4 linked regions of the Homo sapiens genome follow. The protein of the gene in region 1 interacts with the protein of each later gene in a pairwise test. Each region holds a gene or a part of one and is shown in the gene's direction. Other genes may lie near its edges.

Region 1 (3,898 bases):
CTTCCTTCAGCATTTGTGCCTGCAAAAGTGCTTCTAACAGCCCCTCTTCTTTGGCGTCCCTTCCTTAACCTTCTGAGCTTTCCATTGAAATGGGGAAGATGCATCAAGCTTTCCACTGAAATGGGGAAGATGGCAGCTCATCAGGTCCTTGCCTGAGTCACTCCAGACTCAGAAAGGGATGACAGTTACAGTCGCTCAGGAGGGGCTGCCTGTCTGCGGGTGTCTGGGCAGGGAAGAGAATGGGAACGCAGAGCTTCTGAAGGCCTCGGGACATCTGCAGTGGCTCCAGCCTGGCCCCACCCCACAGCCAGCCACTGCTGTCCTGCCCCATAACCTGGGTCCAGGGCCCTGTAGCACACCACCGAGCCTGGGAAGTAGGCTGTTGGTAGGACTTAGCGGGCAAATGAATGTGTGCAAGCGTTCATTCATTCCTCATCCGTCCGCTCAATGATCTGCCTCCCATTCCTCCCTCCCTCCCCAACCGCCACAGGTGTTTTCCGAGTACTTCAAGGAGCTGGAGGAGGAGAGCATCCGGGACAACTTTGTTATCATCTACGAGCTGCTGGACGAGCTCATGGACTTCGGCTACCCCCAGACCACCGACAGCAAGATCCTGCAGGAGTGAGTGGGCAGGGGTGGGGCCTGGGGCCAGGCCTGGGCGGTGTCATGACATCGACGTCATCAGGTGTGGAAACAGAAGGGGCAAATTTGTGTTCATGTTGTCCCCCACCTGCCTCCCACCTCCAGCAGTATTCGGGTTTTTACTAAGTTGCTCTTAGTGGTTTTAATTCGTTTCCTCCTCTACGCCCCCACATAACCGTGCTTTTCCTGCTCCTCATCTTTACTCTCCATCCACACAGATGCCTTCAGTACCTTGCTACTAAGGAGTCACCTCCCTTGTTTTTACTGTCATAAAATGAGACTGTGATCGAAATCTCCCCTCTTTGGAATCCTGCCCTTCAGATAAGAAGCAATGTGAATTAAGTGCTTCCTGGGGGCCGGGCCCCAGCACTTCACATTCACTCGATTCACAGCCTCCCCGTATACCGTCTCCCCATTTTACAGGGGACAAGCAAGCAGACTCCCAGAGAAGCCTGTGTTCCTAACCGCTGCACCTCCTGCTCCTTCAGCAGGATGGGGTCACCAGGTTACACTCCGAGGCGTCAGTTCCATCCACGTGCTCAGCAGGGACGGGAAGCAGCTCACACCCACTTCTTGTTTTCCTTCCCAACATGGTCTTCTTGGTCCCCCAAAATGAGCACTTCAGCCTCTATAACTTGAGTGTATTGGCTTTTGGAAATTGTGAAGATTTTTCTGTATGAAGCAGCCCCAGGTGAACCAGAGGCTGCCTTTTCTGGAGCTGCTGAAATCCAAGGGCTATTTTCAAGTCGGTCAGAACCTGCCCTGTACCCCCCACCCAACCCTGCCGAAATGTCAAGGCCAGAAGCTGTGGCGTTGGTGCGGGTACCACCTCCTTCACTCTGAGCGTGTGGCCCCACAGGTACATCACTCAGGAAGGCCACAAGCTGGAAACAGGGGCCCCGCGGCCACCAGCCACCGTCACCAACGCGGTGTCCTGGCGGTCCGAAGGCATCAAGTATCGGAAGAATGAGGTGTTCTTGGACGTCATCGAGTCTGTCAACCTCTTGGTAGGCCTCTTTTCTTTCCTTCTTCTGTAGGGTTTTATCTCTTCCACGATAGAAATAAACACAGCATTTTAAAACTGGCAAAGCCCCGAGAGCCGTTCTGTGTGGTAACAGATAGCAGGATTCAGTTTGGGCCACTCATTGAAATGTGAGTTTGTCTTATCTTTTTTTTTTGAGACGGAATCTCATTCTGTCGCCCAGGCTAGAGTGTGGTGACACGATCTCGGCTCACTGCAACCTCCGCCTCCCAGGTTCAGGCGATTCTCCTGCCTCAGCCTCCCGTGTAGCCGGGATTATAGGCACCCGCCACCACGCTCGGCTAAAGCTTGTTTTCTTTATTAGCATTTATGCTGACTGAGAATCCATACATGCACATTATTTTTAAAAATTAGAAGCAGGGTATGAGGTTAGAAAGTGAAGGGCTCTTATCAGTCACCATGCACAGAAAAAAAAAAAAGAAACTAAAGGGCTCCTATAATCAGAAAGATTAGGATTTATTCACCGTCACCCTCTCGGGCCTCATTCTGTAGACAGACAGAAACAAGTATATTGATTTTTCTATAAACCTGAGATCATAAGATGTGGTTCTCCTGCAGCTTGTTTTTTTGGTGGTGGTTGTTGTTTGGGTTTTGATTTTGCGTTCAGTGTTACTGTTTTGTATATTTTTTTCTTTTGGTTTTTTAATTATGAGGAAAGTTGACGTTTTGAAAATGAATTTTAGCGCTTGTACAGATTTGTGTACCCATCACCACACCCAGGACACAGAACCTCAAAACCTCCTCATGTTGCCCCTTTGTAGCTCCATGCTCCCCTCTTCCCCATTTCCTGGCCACCATTGAACTGTTCTCCATCACTGGAGTCTTCATCGTGTTGTGATTGTCACACGAGTGGCATCATATGTCACCGCAGCTGTCTTTCTGAGATTGTCGTATGAATGGCGTCATACAGTCATGAGCTCTCGAGTCTGGCTGCTTTAACTCATTCTAATTCTTTGCGATTCATCCAAATCCAATTGTTTTGCATATCAAAAGTCTGTTCCCTTTTATATTTATTTATATTTATTTTCTGTTCTGAACCACAGAAGGACATTTGGGTGGTTTTCCAATCTTTGGCAATTGTCAATAGAGTTGCTAGAAACATGTCGTGTCCAGGTTTATGTGTGGACATAAGTTTTCATCTCTCTAGGGTAAATACCCAGGAGTGGGATGGCTGGGTCACACGGTAAGTGTATGTTTACCTTTATAAGAAACTGCCAAACCATTGCTGTTTTGCATTCTCGCCAGCAACAGATGAGGGTTGTGATGACCCCACATCCTTTGTCAGTAGTTTTATTTTTGTCATCCTAATAGGTATGTAGTAGTATGTCAGCACAGTTTTGTGTTTTGTTTTTGTTTTTGTTTTTGAGACACAGTCTCGCTCTTGTCGCCCAGGCTGGAGTGCAATGGCACTATCTCCATTCACTGCAACCTCTGCCTCCCAGGCTTAAGCGATTCTCCTGCCTCAGCCTCCCGAGTAGCTGGGATTACAGGCACCCACCACCAGGCCTGGCTCATTTTTGTATTTTTACTAGAGACGGGGTTTCACCATGTTGGCCAGGCTGGTCTCGAACTCCTGACCTCAGATGATCCACCCGCCTCTGCCTCCCAAAGTGCTGGGATTACAGGTGTGAGCTACCACGCCTGGCCTATTCCATTTTCTTAATGGCTAATAATGTTGAGCATTGCTTTACATGTTTCTTTGTCATCTGTATATCCTCTTTGGAGAAATGTCTCTGTGCATCTTTTTAGCATTTTTAAATTGGGTTATTTTCATATAGTTGAGCCTTGATAGTTCTTTGTGTGTTCCAGATAGAAGTCCTCTGTCAGATAGGTGATTTGCAAGTATTTTCCCCCAGTCTGTAGCTTATCTTTTTATTCTCTTAGCAGTGTTTTTTTTTTTTCGACAGAGTCTCACTTTGTAGCCCAGGCTGTAGTACAAGTGGCATGCTTGGCTCAGTGCAACCTCCACCTCCGGGCTTCAAGTGCTTCTCCAGCCTCAGCCTCCCAAGTAGCTGGGATTACAGACGCATGCCACCATGCCCGGCTAATTTTTGTATTTTTAGTCGAGACAGGGTTTCACTATGTTGGTCAGGGTGGTATCGAACTCCTGACCTCAGGTGATCTGCCTTCCTCGGCCTCCCTAAGTGTTGGGATTACAGGCGTCGGCCACCATGCCCAGCCCCCAATACTATATTGAATAGGAGTGGTGAGAGA
Region 2 (4,472 bases), on another chromosome or scaffold:
GGCATCACATGGCGAGGGGTTGAACATCCTAGCTCGGGCCTCTCTTCCTCTTCATTTTTTTTTTTTTGTTTTGACACGGAGTCTCACTCTGTTGTCCAGGCTGGAGTGCAGTGGTGCGATCTCGGCTCACTGCAACCTCCGCCTCCCAGGTTCACACCATTCTCTTGCCTCAGCCTCCCGAGTAGCTGGGATTACAGGCACCCGCCACCACACCCGTCTAATTTTTGTATTTTTAGTAGAGATGGGGTTTCACCGTATTAGCCAGGATGGTCTCGATCTCCTGACCTCGTGATCTGCCCGCCTCGGCCTCCCATAGTGCTGGGATTACAGGCGTGAGCCACCACACCTGGCCTTTTTTTTTGAGATGGAGTCTCGCTCTGTCACCTAGGCTGGAGTGCAGTGGCGCGATCTCGGCTCACTGCAAGCTCCACCACCCGGGTTCACACCATTCTCCTGCCTCAGCCTCCCGATTAGCTGGGACTACAGGCGCCCGCCACCATGCCCGGCTAATTTTTTGTATTTTTAGTAGAGATGGAGTTTCACTATGTTAGCTAGGATGGTCTCGATCTCCTGACCTTGTGATTCACCCGCCTCGGCTTCCCAAAGTGCTGGGATTACAGGCGTGAGCCACTGCGCCTGGCCTTTTTTAAGAGAGAGAATTTCACTATGTTCCAGGCTGGGCTGGCCTTGAACTCCTGGGCTCAGGTGATCCTCCTTCAGTCTTCCAAATAGCTGGGACTATAGGCATGTACCACCACACCCTCCTTCTCTTACTCTTCTTATAAAGCCACCAGTCCCACTCCCATGATAACTCATTAATCCATGAGTGAATTAATTCATTCATGACCCAGTCACCTCTTAAAAACCCAGCCTCTCAATACTGCCACACTGGGGATTAACTTTCAACATGAGTTTTGGAGGGGACAGATACTCCATCCATAGTAGTTATTATTCCTGTTTTTACAGGTGGGGAAACAAGACTCTTAAGAAGTTAAATCACATGCCCAACACCAACAACTAATAAGTGGCAGAGCTTGGACTTGAATCCAAGTGTGGCTGAATCCAGGGCCCACCCTTGAACTATGCTGTGCACCTTACAGCACAAGGCCTTTACAGGGCTGTCTACCTGTGAGAGGAAGCCTTAACCTGTCCTTGGCATGCAGCTTAATCTCTGAGGGGGAAAAAAAGAACTTTCCAGCTTTCTTAGAAGTACTAGGGGGCAGCAGGGAATGTGGAGAGCCTGAAGGAAAGCTAGCCCTGGGATCCCTCTGAGAAGACAATCTGCTTGAGAAAAGCAACCTTGGAGGAGGAGGAGCCTTTGGATACAGAACCTACTGGATTAGGCAGCTGGGAGCCAGCCAACTAGTGGCGTACAAAGCTAACTACGTTGTCAGCACTGAATGTCAAACAGTGCAGTGACCTCATGTCAGAGCACAAACAAAACATCACTCAGTACAAAAATCCCTGAACACTAAGGGTTTTCTGTCTTCTTGGATGACCATTACAGTTGGTGAGGCTTCAGGTCCCTGGGGATCTGCCATATTACAGTGGCTATAAATGAGATTTCTTTTTCTTTTTTCAGCAGCAAGCATCTAAAGTTGAGAAGGTGTTTTTTACCACTGCAGTACCAGTAGCCAGTAGCCCAGGTATGTAATTCCATGTTAGCCTTAAGAGAAGGCAACTCTGTGGGTCCCTTGAGGCACAGCTAATTATTGCTTTGTCCCAGTTTCTAAAACTTTAAAAATCTTTAAACAGCCTCAGTTAAATTCTTCACATTGTATTGTTGGCTAGAGTATTTCATATTCTCACAACTATTAGAAGTTAGTATACGTCTGGCCAAAATACCGTGTTTAACATTCTTTAACTAGTAACAGTTCTTTCCCTTTCAGATACAGCTTTAAAATGTAGCCAGAAAAAAATTTTTGAATCACAGCTAATGCTAAAGAGGGCAGTTGTTAATTCACTGGACTCTTTTCTAATTACAGTAATGAAGAAATAGCATCTGGGTCAGAGACACATATAGAGCTGAAAGTTCCTTTTATTCAAATTCTTTATTTTATAGATTAAGACACTGGGACCCAGAAAAATTAATTGACTCCCCCAAGGTTGTAAGTGAATCTGTGGTGGAACCAAAGCACTAGTTGTCAGGCCTCCCCGTTCCCACCCTGTTCTCCTGCCCACTGGCCTTTGTTTTGTTTTGTTTTTGAGACAAGGTCTCACTGTCACCCAGGCTGCAGTATGGTGGCACGATCACAGCTCACTGCAGCCTGGGCCTCCTGAGTTCAGGCAATCCTCTTGCCTCAGCCCCCCAAGTAGCTGGGACCATAGGCATGCTCCACCACCATGCCTGGCTAATTTTCTTTTTTTTCTTTCTTTTTTTTTTTTTTTTTGAGATGGAGTCACGTTCTGTTGCCCAGGCTGGACTGCAGTGGCGCAATCCCGGCTCACTGCAACCCCTGCCTCCTAGGTTCAAGTGATTCTCATGTCTCAGTCTCCCAAGTAGCTGGGATTACAGGCATTCAACACTATGCCCAGCTAATTTTTGTATTTTTAGTAGAGACAAGGTTTCACCATGTTGGCCAGGCTGGTCTCAAACTCCTGACATCAAGTGATCTGCCCACCTTGGCCTCCCAAAGTGCTGGGATTATAGGCATGAGCCACCACGCCCGGCCTAATTTTTCTTTATTATGTGTAGAGACAGAGTCTCACTATATTGGCCAGGCTGGTCTCAAACACCTGGGCTCAAGAGAATCCTCCCTTCTCAGTCTCCCAAAGTACAGGGATTACATACAGGCATGAGCCACTGCACCTCATCCTGCCCATTGGTCTTTAGCTCTGTCAAGACACACAAAGCCTGGCTGAATATGGAGCAAGTGTTCGTACAACACATGAGAGAAAGAGAGATGAGTAAGATGTCCTAAAGGAGCTCAGAGTCTCCTGGGCAGGCAGAACCAAGCAGGTCCTGTACCGCAAGGAGAGAGGTGTGGAAGGAAAACAGCAGCACTGTGCATGTGTGCCGGGAGGCTGGGTACCGGCTTCATCCAAGCTAGTCCTCTGCATAGGCCTACAGAGAGTGGGGGAGTGAGCTAGGTCTTGAAAGATGAGTGTCAGTTCTCCAGAAGAGAGGTGTCCAGGGATTTTAGTCGTAAGGAAGAGCCCACAGGCCCAGGGGTATAAAGAACGTGTCAGGAAAAGTAGGCCTCCACAGGGAGGGTGCAATGGAGAATGACTGGAAATGAAGCTGGAAATACAGGGTGCATCTAGATCGTGTGTGTGACTTTCTAAGGAAACGGGACTTTGTCTCGGGCTGGGGAGTGTCCCTCTTTTACCTCAGAGGGCATGTGGTCCAATTTAAAGCAGAACGAAGCCCGAAGTGTGGCAACCATCCTTCCCATGGTTCCCATGGCACTCTGCTCTCACCTAGTCCATGTATCCCTGTCCCTCATGCTCCTGCCCCTGCAGCTACTTGAAGAGCAGTCTCTCTTGCCTCTCTCGCAGGGAGCTCTGTCCAGCAGATTGGCCTCAGTGTTCCTGTGATCATCATCAAACAAGAAGAGGCATGTCAGTGTCAGTGTGCATGCCGGGACTCTGCAAAGGAGCGGGCATCCAGCAGGAGAAAGGGCTGCTCCTCCCCACCCCCTCCAGAGCCGAGCCCCCAGGCTCCTGATGGGCCCAGCCTGCAGCTCCCAGCGCAGACTTTCTCTTCAGCCCCTGTTCCCGGGTCATCATCCTCTACCTTGCCCTCCTCCTGTGAGCAAAGCCGACAAGCAGAGACTCCTTCAGACCCTCAGACAGAAACATTAAGTGCCATGGATGTGTCAGAGTTTCTATCCCTCCAGAGCCTGGACACCCCGTCCAATCTGATTCCCATTGAAGCACTACTGCAGGGGGAGGAGGAGATGGGCCTCACCAGCAGCTTCTCCAAGTGAAGGGCCCATGTGTGCTCACCTCTGGGAAAAGCGGGTGAGCAGGAGGCATGAGGTACAATGCCTGCCATCATGGGTCAGAAATTTGAAGGATGAAGAAATCTACTGTTTGAAATCCTCACCTTTCAGACGTATTTTCTTTATTCACATCCCAGGAGCATCCATTTTAAGGAACTATTCTTTGGAAAAAAACAAAAAACAAAAAAAACAACAAAAAAAGCTAAGTTATAAGTGAACTGTTTGGCTGCACTGTATGTCACTTTTGCTTGTTGTCATGTGAACTTGGAAACTAAGGTTACTCGTGTGCATAAAAATTCTAAATGAAAGGGTGTGGTTTCCATCAATCTGATGCTGCCCATCGCTTGCACTGGGGTCTTTGTGGATCGGGCAGGAGTTTTCAGTGTGTTGGGTGTTGCTCCTTCCTATGTGTCTTTTGAATCTGAGGCTGACATTTGCTTGGAAGGCCAGACCCTTGCTCCATCAGAGAGGGCAGTGGCAAAGGCCAGTGAGGCAGCTGTGAGTTGGACAGGGTTCAGGTGAGATGGT
Region 3 (4,472 bases), on another chromosome or scaffold:
ATGGGAGAGAGAGACAAAGAAGTAGAGAAAAAAATGCAATGATTAGAAAAACCAATAAGCCACAAGGGAAACAAAAGGCATAGCAGCCAGAACTTATTAAAATATAGGTCAGATGTCAGGACTCCTCTGCTCAAAACCCTCCAGTGGCTCCAGCTCACTCAGTAAAAGCCAGAGACCTCACGCTTGATCATAAGGCCCCCTGCATTCTCCTGTGACTTCCTGACCCACTGTTTTCCTCATTGCTCACTCAGCCACATTCACTTCCCTTCTGTTCCTCAGACATGCCAGGCACATACTCACCTTTGCACTGGCGATCTCTTTTGCTTGGCAGGCTCTTTCGCAGACAGTGTCACCTGTCACCTTCTCAAGGAGGCCTTCTATGGCCACCCTAGTTAAATTTTAACTTCCCTTCCTCCCCTCTCCCCTCCCTATCCTCCTTCCCTCCTCTTTTTTGCCTCCATTGTGTTTATCACTATCTAAGATGTTATATATTTTACTCACTTATCTTGCTTACGGTCTCTTTCCCCCATTAGGACATAAACTCCATGTAGGGAAGGATTTTTGTCTGTTTCTTTCACTCCTGCATTCCCAACATGTAGAAGTGTTTCTGGTACACGAAAGATGCTCAGGAAATGTATGAATAAGAACACTGAAGGATGTGGACAGAGAAATACCTTCTTAAGGTTGTACATGCATGGCCAGGTGCCGTGGCTCATGCCTGTAATCCCAGCTACTTGGGAGGCTGAGGTGGGAGGATCATTTGAGGCCAGGAGTTCAAGACCAGCCTGGATAATTTAGCGAGACTCCACAAAAAACTTGAAAAGATTAGCTGGGCATGGCACACGCCTGTAGTCCCAGCTACTCAGGAGGCTGAAGCAGAATTGCTTGAGCCCAGTAGTTTGATGCTGCAGTGAGCTATGATCACACCCCTGCACTCTAGCCTGGGTGACAGAGCAAGACTATCTGTCTCTAGCAACAACAACAAAAAAGATAGTACATGTAGGAAAGGTATTTTTTTTTTGTTTCTTTTTTTAAGCATCAGAGGTATCACGCTGAAGGGAAGTTATCTTTGAAATGAGATCATCTAAGCTGAGATTTGAAGGATAAATTGGAGCAGTTAGGAGAGGATAATCCAAGCAGAAGGATCAGCAAGGGTAGAGATAGTGAAGAGTTGGCTGTTAGAGGAACAAAGAAGGCATGTGGGCCTGGAGGCAAGGACCTGGTACTTATATCCTGTGCCAGAGCCCCCCACCTTCTGCAGCTCTGTCACTCTGAGCTGATACCTATGGGAGCAGGTGAGAGTGACTTGGCCTCACTGAACGTTTCTCCCACTGGAGATGTTGCCACCTGATCTTCTACCCTTGCCATTTCTTCTCTCTCTCATAATTTATTCACTTAACTTCCATTTATTGGCTGTAAATGTGCTAGGGGTCTGGCATGTTCAATTTCAGTATAGTTAGAATAGCTTGACAATCAGAGCAGATGTATCTCTGATCCTGGATAACCCCGTGAATGGAACATGGAGAAGCTGCTCTAGCAGAGGTTGGTTTACAAAACATGAAATTTGCCCAAGAAGAGAGTTGAGCACTGGTCATTCAGCTACTTATTGAACACCTGTTTGCCAGGTACCAGCCTAGGAGTCAGGAATATGATAGTGAACAAAATGGACAAAATCCTTACCCCCATTTACATTAGGGAATTTATAGGGGGAGAAAGAATAGACAACGTAAGTATATTTTATAGTGTGTAGGTAATAGGTAATAAGTACTTTGAAGGGAAAAAGGGCAAAGAGGGTTAGGAAGTGGTGGGGATTATGGGGGAGGGGTATACAATTTTAAATAAAATGGTCAAAGAAGGCCTCAATGAGAAGATGACATTTGAGCCAAGACCTAAAGAGGTGAGGGACTGAGCCATGAGGCTGTCTGGAGAAAGAGCCTTCCTAGCAAAGTGAATAGCACGGGCAAAGGCCCTGGGGTGGATGCATGTTGTGTTCGAGGATCAGTAAAGAGGCCTGTGCGGCTGGAGCTGAGGGAATGATGGGGAGAAGAGTTCAAAGGGTAATGGCCAGCAGGGTGCATGCGTGAGAGAGGAGGGGCATGCATCTCTTATAGGACCTGTGGGCTATGAGGCCATGGTAGGGACTTTGGCTTTTACTATGAGTAAGACAGAGAACCGTTGGAAGACGTTGAGCAGAGGGGTGCTACTGTCTGATTTGGACTGTAAGAGGATCATCCTGGCTGTTGCTGAGATGGGGTGTCAGCAAAGCAGTGTGGGAGCAGCTTTGTTAGCACTCTAAATGGAAGGTGATGCTGGCTTGGAGCTGGGGTTAGTGATGGAGCTAGTGAGAAGCTGCTCATGGATTCTAGATTCATTTTGAAGGTCGGAATCCAATAGGATTTGCCGATAGATTTAAAGGAGAGTATGTTGTTAAGAGTGACTCAGGTTTTTAGCCTGAGGCCCTCTTAAAGATGGTGCTGGCAGGAACTAGATGATGTAGACTGCAGGGTGAGCCAGTTGGGGAAAGGAAGGAAGCAGGAGGTCAGTTTTTATCCCATTGTTTGAGCTGCCTGCTAGTCATCTCCACAGTAATGTGGAGATGTCAGTTACACAGTTTGGACATGTGTGCCCGGGGGTTCTGGGGAGAGGTTGGGCTATGTGGATGGTATGTAAAGCTGTGATACCGGATGATCCACCAAAGAGGCAAAATAGCATAGATGGGGAAGAGAAGAGGTACCAGGCCTGAGCCCTGGGGCACACAGTGTTGAAGGAGAAGGAGAGGAACAAGCAAAGGAGACTGAGAAGGCGCAGACAGTGGCGTAGGAGGGCAGGCAGAGAGCATGGCATCCTAGCATTTGAGGGAAGACAGGTTTTCAGGAAGGAGGGAGTGATCAGTAGTGTCAAATGCTTATCAGCATGAGACTTGTCATTTGACATGACCATTGTGTCTTCTCCTGGCAGGACCCAACACACCTGGCATCCAGAACCATTTCTGAATCTCATTCTTCCTTCCCTAGCCTCGTCTGCTCCTTTCCCTTCCAGGTCCTTTCCTTCAGCCAGGCAGCGGGGCTCACAGACTTCTTGTTTTGGCCTTAGGTAAATCACTCATCTCTCAGTGTCTCTAATTCCTTGTTTTTTAACTGAATTACCCTGAGAATTAAATGAGAAGGGTTGTAAATCACTTAGCAAGAAGCCGTTCCCCAGCTAGTGTTGATTTAATTGTTGTCAGTTCCCTCCGTTGTCACATTGGCAATTTCGTGGTGCATCTCTTTGCCACCTCCACTCTTGCCTCTCTAAATCTGACCTGTCTTTTTGCGTCAGCCAAGCCCCTCTTCATCTAAGAGAACTTCCCTTGCTGCTCCACCTATCTCAGAACCCTCCTCCTCTGGAGGCATGATCACTCTGCCGTTCCCCTGCAGTCCTTTACCTGGCCTCTAAATCTGTAAGAGCTCAGTGAGAAAAGACTGTCCTTTGTTTACTGTGTGCATGCTTCCGTGTGGGGCACAGTTCCAGGCATGGAGCGGATGGTGCTCTACACTGTTAATTTGACAGATCTTCAGAAAGTGTTCCCATTACATAGATGGGAAAACCGAGATCACAAAGAGCGTTGTTCTGTAGTCTCTGGCCTCTTTCTCCTCATCTCGATTAATTTAAGTATTGTTCAGAAGAAGCCTTACTTACTTTATTTTCAAGTCCAGAGGAACTTTTTCTTTTTTTGAGATGGAGTCTTGCTCTGTCACCCAGGCCAGAGTGCAGTGGTGCGATTTCAGGTTCAAGCAATTCTCCTGCCTGAGACTCCTGAGTAGTTGGGACTATAGGTGCGAGCCACCATGTCCAGCTAATTTTTGTATTTTTAGTAGAGATAGGTTTCGCCATGTTGGCCAAGCTGGTCTCGAACTCCTCACCTCAAGTGATCTGCCCACCTCGGTCTCCTAAAGTGCTGGGATTACAGGCATGAGCCACTGCGCCCATCACTTTTTTTTCTTCACAGCAGATCTTTCCGCACATTACGGCTTATAGATCAGTTCAGAACTGGTACCTGATTCTAGAATGGAGTTCTAGAGACTCAAAGCCAATATAAGAACGTTTGCATGTGACATTTGTCTGCCTTTAGTTCCTTTTCATTCTGAAGTCTTTAATTGCTAGTGGGCCTCAGGAAACTGACTTTTTTTTTTTTTTTTTTTTGTGGGACGGAGTCTTGCTCTGTTGCCCAGGCTGGAGTGCAGTGACACGATCTCAGCTCACTGCAAGCTCCGCCTCCTGAGTTCACACCATTCTCCTGCCTCAGCCTCCCGAGTAGCTGGGACTACAGGCACCCGCCACCAGGCCCAGCTAATTTTTTGTATTTTTAGTAGAGATGGGGTTTCACCGTGTTAGCCAGGATGGTCTCGATTTCCTGACCTCATGATCCGCCCGCCTCGGCCTCCCAAAGTGCTGGGATTACAGGCGTGAGCCACTGCGCCCGGCCTTTTTTT
Region 4 (4,472 bases), on another chromosome or scaffold:
TACATAAGTGAATTTTTATTATAATATTTCTGAAAACATTTTGTTTGGTCTAGGAGATCACAGAGCATGTAATACTGTTTTCTTCTTTTAATTCTGAGAGGAATAGATTGTTCCTTGACTATGAAGGCAGATTGTTGCTATTGCATTGGTTACCTCAGCGGTGAAGGAGTAAATATTTTCTTTTTTTTTTTTTTTTTTTTGAGACGGAGTCTCGCACTGTCGCCCAGGCTGGAGTGCAGTGGTGCAATCTCTGCTCACTGCAAGCTCCGCCTCCCGGGTTCATGCCATTCTCCTGCCTCAGCCTTCCGAGTAGCTGGGACTACAGGCGCCCGCCACTATGCCTGGCTAATTTTTTGTATTTTTAGTAGAGGTGGGGTTTCACCATGTTAGCCAGGATGGTCTTGATCTCCTGACCTTGTGATCCACCCGCCTCAGCCTCCCAAAATGCTGGGATTACAGGCGTGAGCCACCACGCCTGGCCTATTTTCTTGAATATTACTTTTTTACTGAACAGTACATAAAAATCTAAATTGGAATTACTTATAAGTAAAAATACCACTTTATTTAACACCATCAAGGATAGGATGGATATTTTAGTTTAACCATTACCATTTCATTTATTTGACTCTTTTGTTTATTTGTTTGTTTGTTTGATTTGTAGAGACAGGGTCTTGCTCTGTCACCCAGGCTGGAGTGCAGTGGTGCAGTCATAGTCCACTGGGGCCTCAAACTCCTGAGGTCAAGTGATCCTCCTGCCTCAGCCACCCAAGTAGCTAGGACTACAGGTATGCACCACTGTCCCCAGCTAATTTTTCAATTTTTTGTAGAGTTGGGGATCTCACTATGTTACCCAGGCTGGTCTTGAACTCCTGGCCTCAAGTGATCCTCCCACCTCAGCTTCCCAAAGCACTGGGATTACAGGTGAGAGCCACTCTGCCCTGCCCAAACTAGAGCTTTTTAAAAAAACATGCATGTCTTTTTGCTCCTTGAACTTGAAACTATGGGCCTTTTGTTCATATGAGTCATCCTAGAGCCCTGAACAATTTTAAAAAGGACCAAACATTTTCTATCCTCTTTGATCAGCTTTATATGATTAGGTTATTGATATCCAACAACTAAAGATTTTAACACAAAACCCTTATTAAAATGATGCATTAGGCCAGGCACAGTGGCTCACACCTCTAATCCCAGCACTTTGGGAGGCCAAGGCGGGTGGATCACCTGAGGTCAGGAGTTCAAGGTCAGCCTGGCCAACATGGCTAAACCCCATCTCTACTAAAAATACAAAAATTAGCAGAGCGTCATGGCAGGTGCCTGCAGTCCCAGCTATTCTAGAGGCTGAGGTAGGAAAATCGCTTGAACCCAGGAGGCAGAGGTTGCAGTGAGCCAAGATTGTGCCACTGCACTCCAGCCTGGGTGACACAATGAAACTCTGTCTCAAAAAAAAAAAAAAGCATTAAAAATTTTCATTTTTGATGAGCACAGTGGCTCATGCCTGCAATCCTGGCATTTTGGGAGGCCAAGGCAGGCAGATTGCTTGAGCCCAGGAGTTCGAGGCCAGCCTGGGCAACATGGTGAGACCCTGTTTCTACAAAAATACAAAAATTAGCCAGACATGATGGTGTGCACCTGTAGTTCCAGCTACTATTGGCTGAAGTGGGAGGATGGCTTCAGCCCAGGAGGTTGAGGCTTCAGTGAGCTATGCTCGCACCACTGCACTCCAGTCTGGGTGATAGAGCAAGACCCTGTCTCAAAACAAAAAATTCCCTTTTCTTGTGAAAAATCAAACATATGCAAAAGAAGAAAAAAATAGAACACTGAATCCCAATATGTCCATCATCCAATTTCTTTTTCTTTTTTCTTTTTTTTTTTTTTTTTTTCAGACAGAGTCTTGCTCTGTTGCCCAGGCTGGAATGCAATGGCACTATCTCACCTGTGAACTCCACCTCCTGGGTTTAAGTGAGCATGCCCAGCTAAGTTTTATATTTTTAGTAGAGATGGGGTTTCACCATGTTGGCCAGGCTGGTCTCGAACTCCTGACCTCAAGTGATCTGCCCGCCTCAGCCTCTCGAAGTGCTAGGATTACAGGCGTGAGCCACCGCACCTGGCCCGTCATCCAGTTTCAATGATTGTCACGATTTTCCCACAGTACCTCAAAATGGTACATTTCATTTATTCTGTCATTTATTTATTCCATCTGCAGTTTCATGCAAAAATGATGCATTTTAAAGTCCCTAAATGTTGGTTAAGAAAATAAAATTTGCTTTAAAACATGCCATAAAATTAGTGCTTTATGCATTCATTATATTAGAAAATTATTTGCTGGTTTTTTTTTTTTTAAACCAATTCAGATCCCAGTAAAAAAATTATTCTCCAGGCTGAGCGTGATGACTGATGCTTGTAATCCCAGCACTTTGACAGGCCAAAATGGGAGGATTGCTTGAGGCCATAAGTTGAAGACCAGCCTGGGCAAGATAGTGGGACCCTGTCCCTACAAAAATTACAAAAATTAGCCAGCTGCGGTGTTGTATGCTATAGTCCTAGCTACTTAGGAGGCTGAGGTAGAATTTCTTGAACCCTGGAGGTTGAGGCTGCAATGAGCCATGGCTGTGCCACTGTACTCCAGTCTGGGTGACAGAGTGAGATCCTATCTCAAAAAAAATTTTTTTTCAGCAGCCAGTTGGAGGGCTAAGGAAATCAGAATTGATATGAAACAATTGTATAAAATAGTATTCTATATATGATCTCTTAGGGGTTTTTTGTTTGTTGGTTGGTTTTTTGTTGTTGTTCTGTTATTTGTGTTTTTGCAAGGAAAAGGGCGGAGCAGGGTGGGGATGGAGATAGAAGAACTTTCTCAGGGTTGACACTTTACTTTGTAACTTTAAGAAATATATTATGCCTAATATACAGCAAAATGTACCAATACTTTTTTTTTTTTTGAGACAGAATCTGGCTCTGTCGCCCAGGCTGGAGTGCAGTGGCGCAATCTCGGCTCACTGCAAGCTCTGCCTCCCGGGTTCACGCCATTCTCCTGCCTCAGCCTCCCAAGTAGCTGGGATTACAGGCGCACGCCACTATGCCTGGCTAATTTTTTGTATTTTTAGTAGAGATGGGGTTTCACCGTGTTAGCCAGGATGGTCTTGATCTCCTGACATCGTGATCCGCCCACCTCGGCCTCTCAAAGTGCTGGGATTACAGGCGTAAGCCACCGCGCCCGGCTAAAAGGTACCAATACTTTGACCTGTTAAGTAATCTTGTCCTATTATTAAAAATTAAAAGCCTGTTTATAAACATATTAGACAGAACACTTCAGAGAAACAGAATCCTTGGACTGAGATGGAGAAAATCAGAGTTTGTGTTCGAAAACGCCCCCTGGGCATGAGGGAGGTACGTCGTGGAGAAATTAATATTATTACTGTAGAAGACAAAGAAACTCTACTTGTGCATGAGAAGAAAGAAGCAGTTGACCTCACTCAATATATTCTGCAGGTATGATGTTTTCGTTTTATGTTTGGAACTAATATTATCAAGTATGTCATTTTTTTTTGCTTTTTGTTTGAGTGGTGGCATACAAGTTTCTGTTAGAACACTGAAAATCAAGTTTCTGGTTCGGGTGTTGACATTCATTCCTGATGTGACACTGTATTAAGTCATTGATATCCAGGGCCTTCATTTTTTCAAAAGACGGTGCAATAGGGGATACAAAAACAATTTCTCTTGTGCAGTGGAGCTACATCATATATTCACTTAACATGCTTTGTGTGAATTTAATTATACATATTCAGCAAAAAAAAGGAGGAATGAAGGAATAAAAATAATTTAAATAATGAAGTGGGGCCAGGTGTGGTGGCTCACGCCTATAATCCCAGTGCTTTGGGAGGCTGCAGTGGGAGGATCACTTGAGCCCAAGAGTTTGAGACCACCCTGGGCACCATAGCGAGATCCTGTCTCTCCAGAAAAGATCTTAAAACTAGCCCAGCATGGTGGTGTGTACCTGTAGTCTTAACTACTCAGGAGGCTGAGGCAGGAGGATCACTTGAGCCCAGGAGTTCTGCATTACAGTGAGCTATGATTGCACCACTGCACTCCAGCCTGGGCAACAGAGGGAGGATCTGCCTCTAAAAGAATATAAAAATAAAAAACAAATAAATAATTAAGTAGTTGTCAACAGGACCAGTCACTGAATATATGACTATGAGATGTCACACAGTTGATTTCCATTCTTGCTTGCATCTCACAGTGTGAACTTCTCATTCTGCTGACTTTGAGACTTGGGTTTAATGATGGACAATATCTTTTTGGGCAACAGGACCGACAATTGCCAGCCACGTGCTTATTTTGATTCTCAGCTGTCTTGGGCTTATACTTAATTGGCGAAAATTGGGCTCTGAGCAGACCACTTTATACAGGGTAGATTGCAGTGGGTAAATAAAATCCAGAGATATGATTTCACATCTAACATATAAGGGTTT

The links. Proteins that work in one complex are often made in the same cells at the same time.
Region 2: the proteins of AP1M1 (region 1) and MTF1 interact in binary tests that used the Homo sapiens proteins (3 or more experiments, as listed by UniProt).
Region 3: the proteins of AP1M1 (region 1) and AP1B1 interact in a two-hybrid assay, tested with the Homo sapiens proteins (2 studies listed by BioGRID, with this or other methods).
Region 4: the proteins of AP1M1 (region 1) and KIF24 interact in binary tests that used the Homo sapiens proteins (3 or more experiments, as listed by UniProt).

What each region holds. Positions count from the first base shown.
Region 1 is NC_000019.10:16,207,529-16,211,426, forward strand, and holds part of AP1M1 (AP-1 complex subunit mu-1), read left to right. Parts: intron 1-490; coding exon 491-621; intron 622-1,501; coding exon 1,502-1,649; intron 1,650-2,831; coding exon of another isoform or gene 2,832-2,867; intron 2,868-3,898. UniProt on the Homo sapiens protein: Subunit of clathrin-associated adaptor protein complex 1 that plays a role in protein sorting in the trans-Golgi network (TGN) and endosomes.
Region 2 is NC_000001.11:37,814,593-37,819,064, reverse strand, and holds part of MTF1 (metal regulatory transcription factor 1), read left to right. Parts: intron 1-966; coding exon of another isoform or gene 967-987; exon of another isoform or gene 988-1,582; coding exon 1,583-1,646; intron 1,647-3,498; coding exon 3,499-3,929; 3' UTR 3,930-4,472. UniProt on the Homo sapiens protein: Zinc-dependent transcriptional regulator of cellular adaption to conditions of exposure to heavy metals. Binds to metal responsive elements (MRE) in promoters and activates the transcription of metallothionein genes like metallothionein-2/MT2A.
Region 3 is NC_000022.11:29,378,571-29,383,042, reverse strand, and holds part of AP1B1 (AP-1 complex subunit beta-1), read left to right. Parts: intron 1-4,472. UniProt on the Homo sapiens protein: Subunit of clathrin-associated adaptor protein complex 1 that plays a role in protein sorting in the late-Golgi/trans-Golgi network (TGN) and/or endosomes.
Region 4 is NC_000009.12:34,305,269-34,309,740, reverse strand, and holds part of KIF24 (kinesin-like protein KIF24), read left to right. Parts: intron 1-3,299; coding exon 3,300-3,489; intron 3,490-4,472. UniProt on the Homo sapiens protein: Microtubule-dependent motor protein that acts as a negative regulator of ciliogenesis by mediating recruitment of CCP110 to mother centriole in cycling cells, leading to restrict nucleation of cilia at centrioles.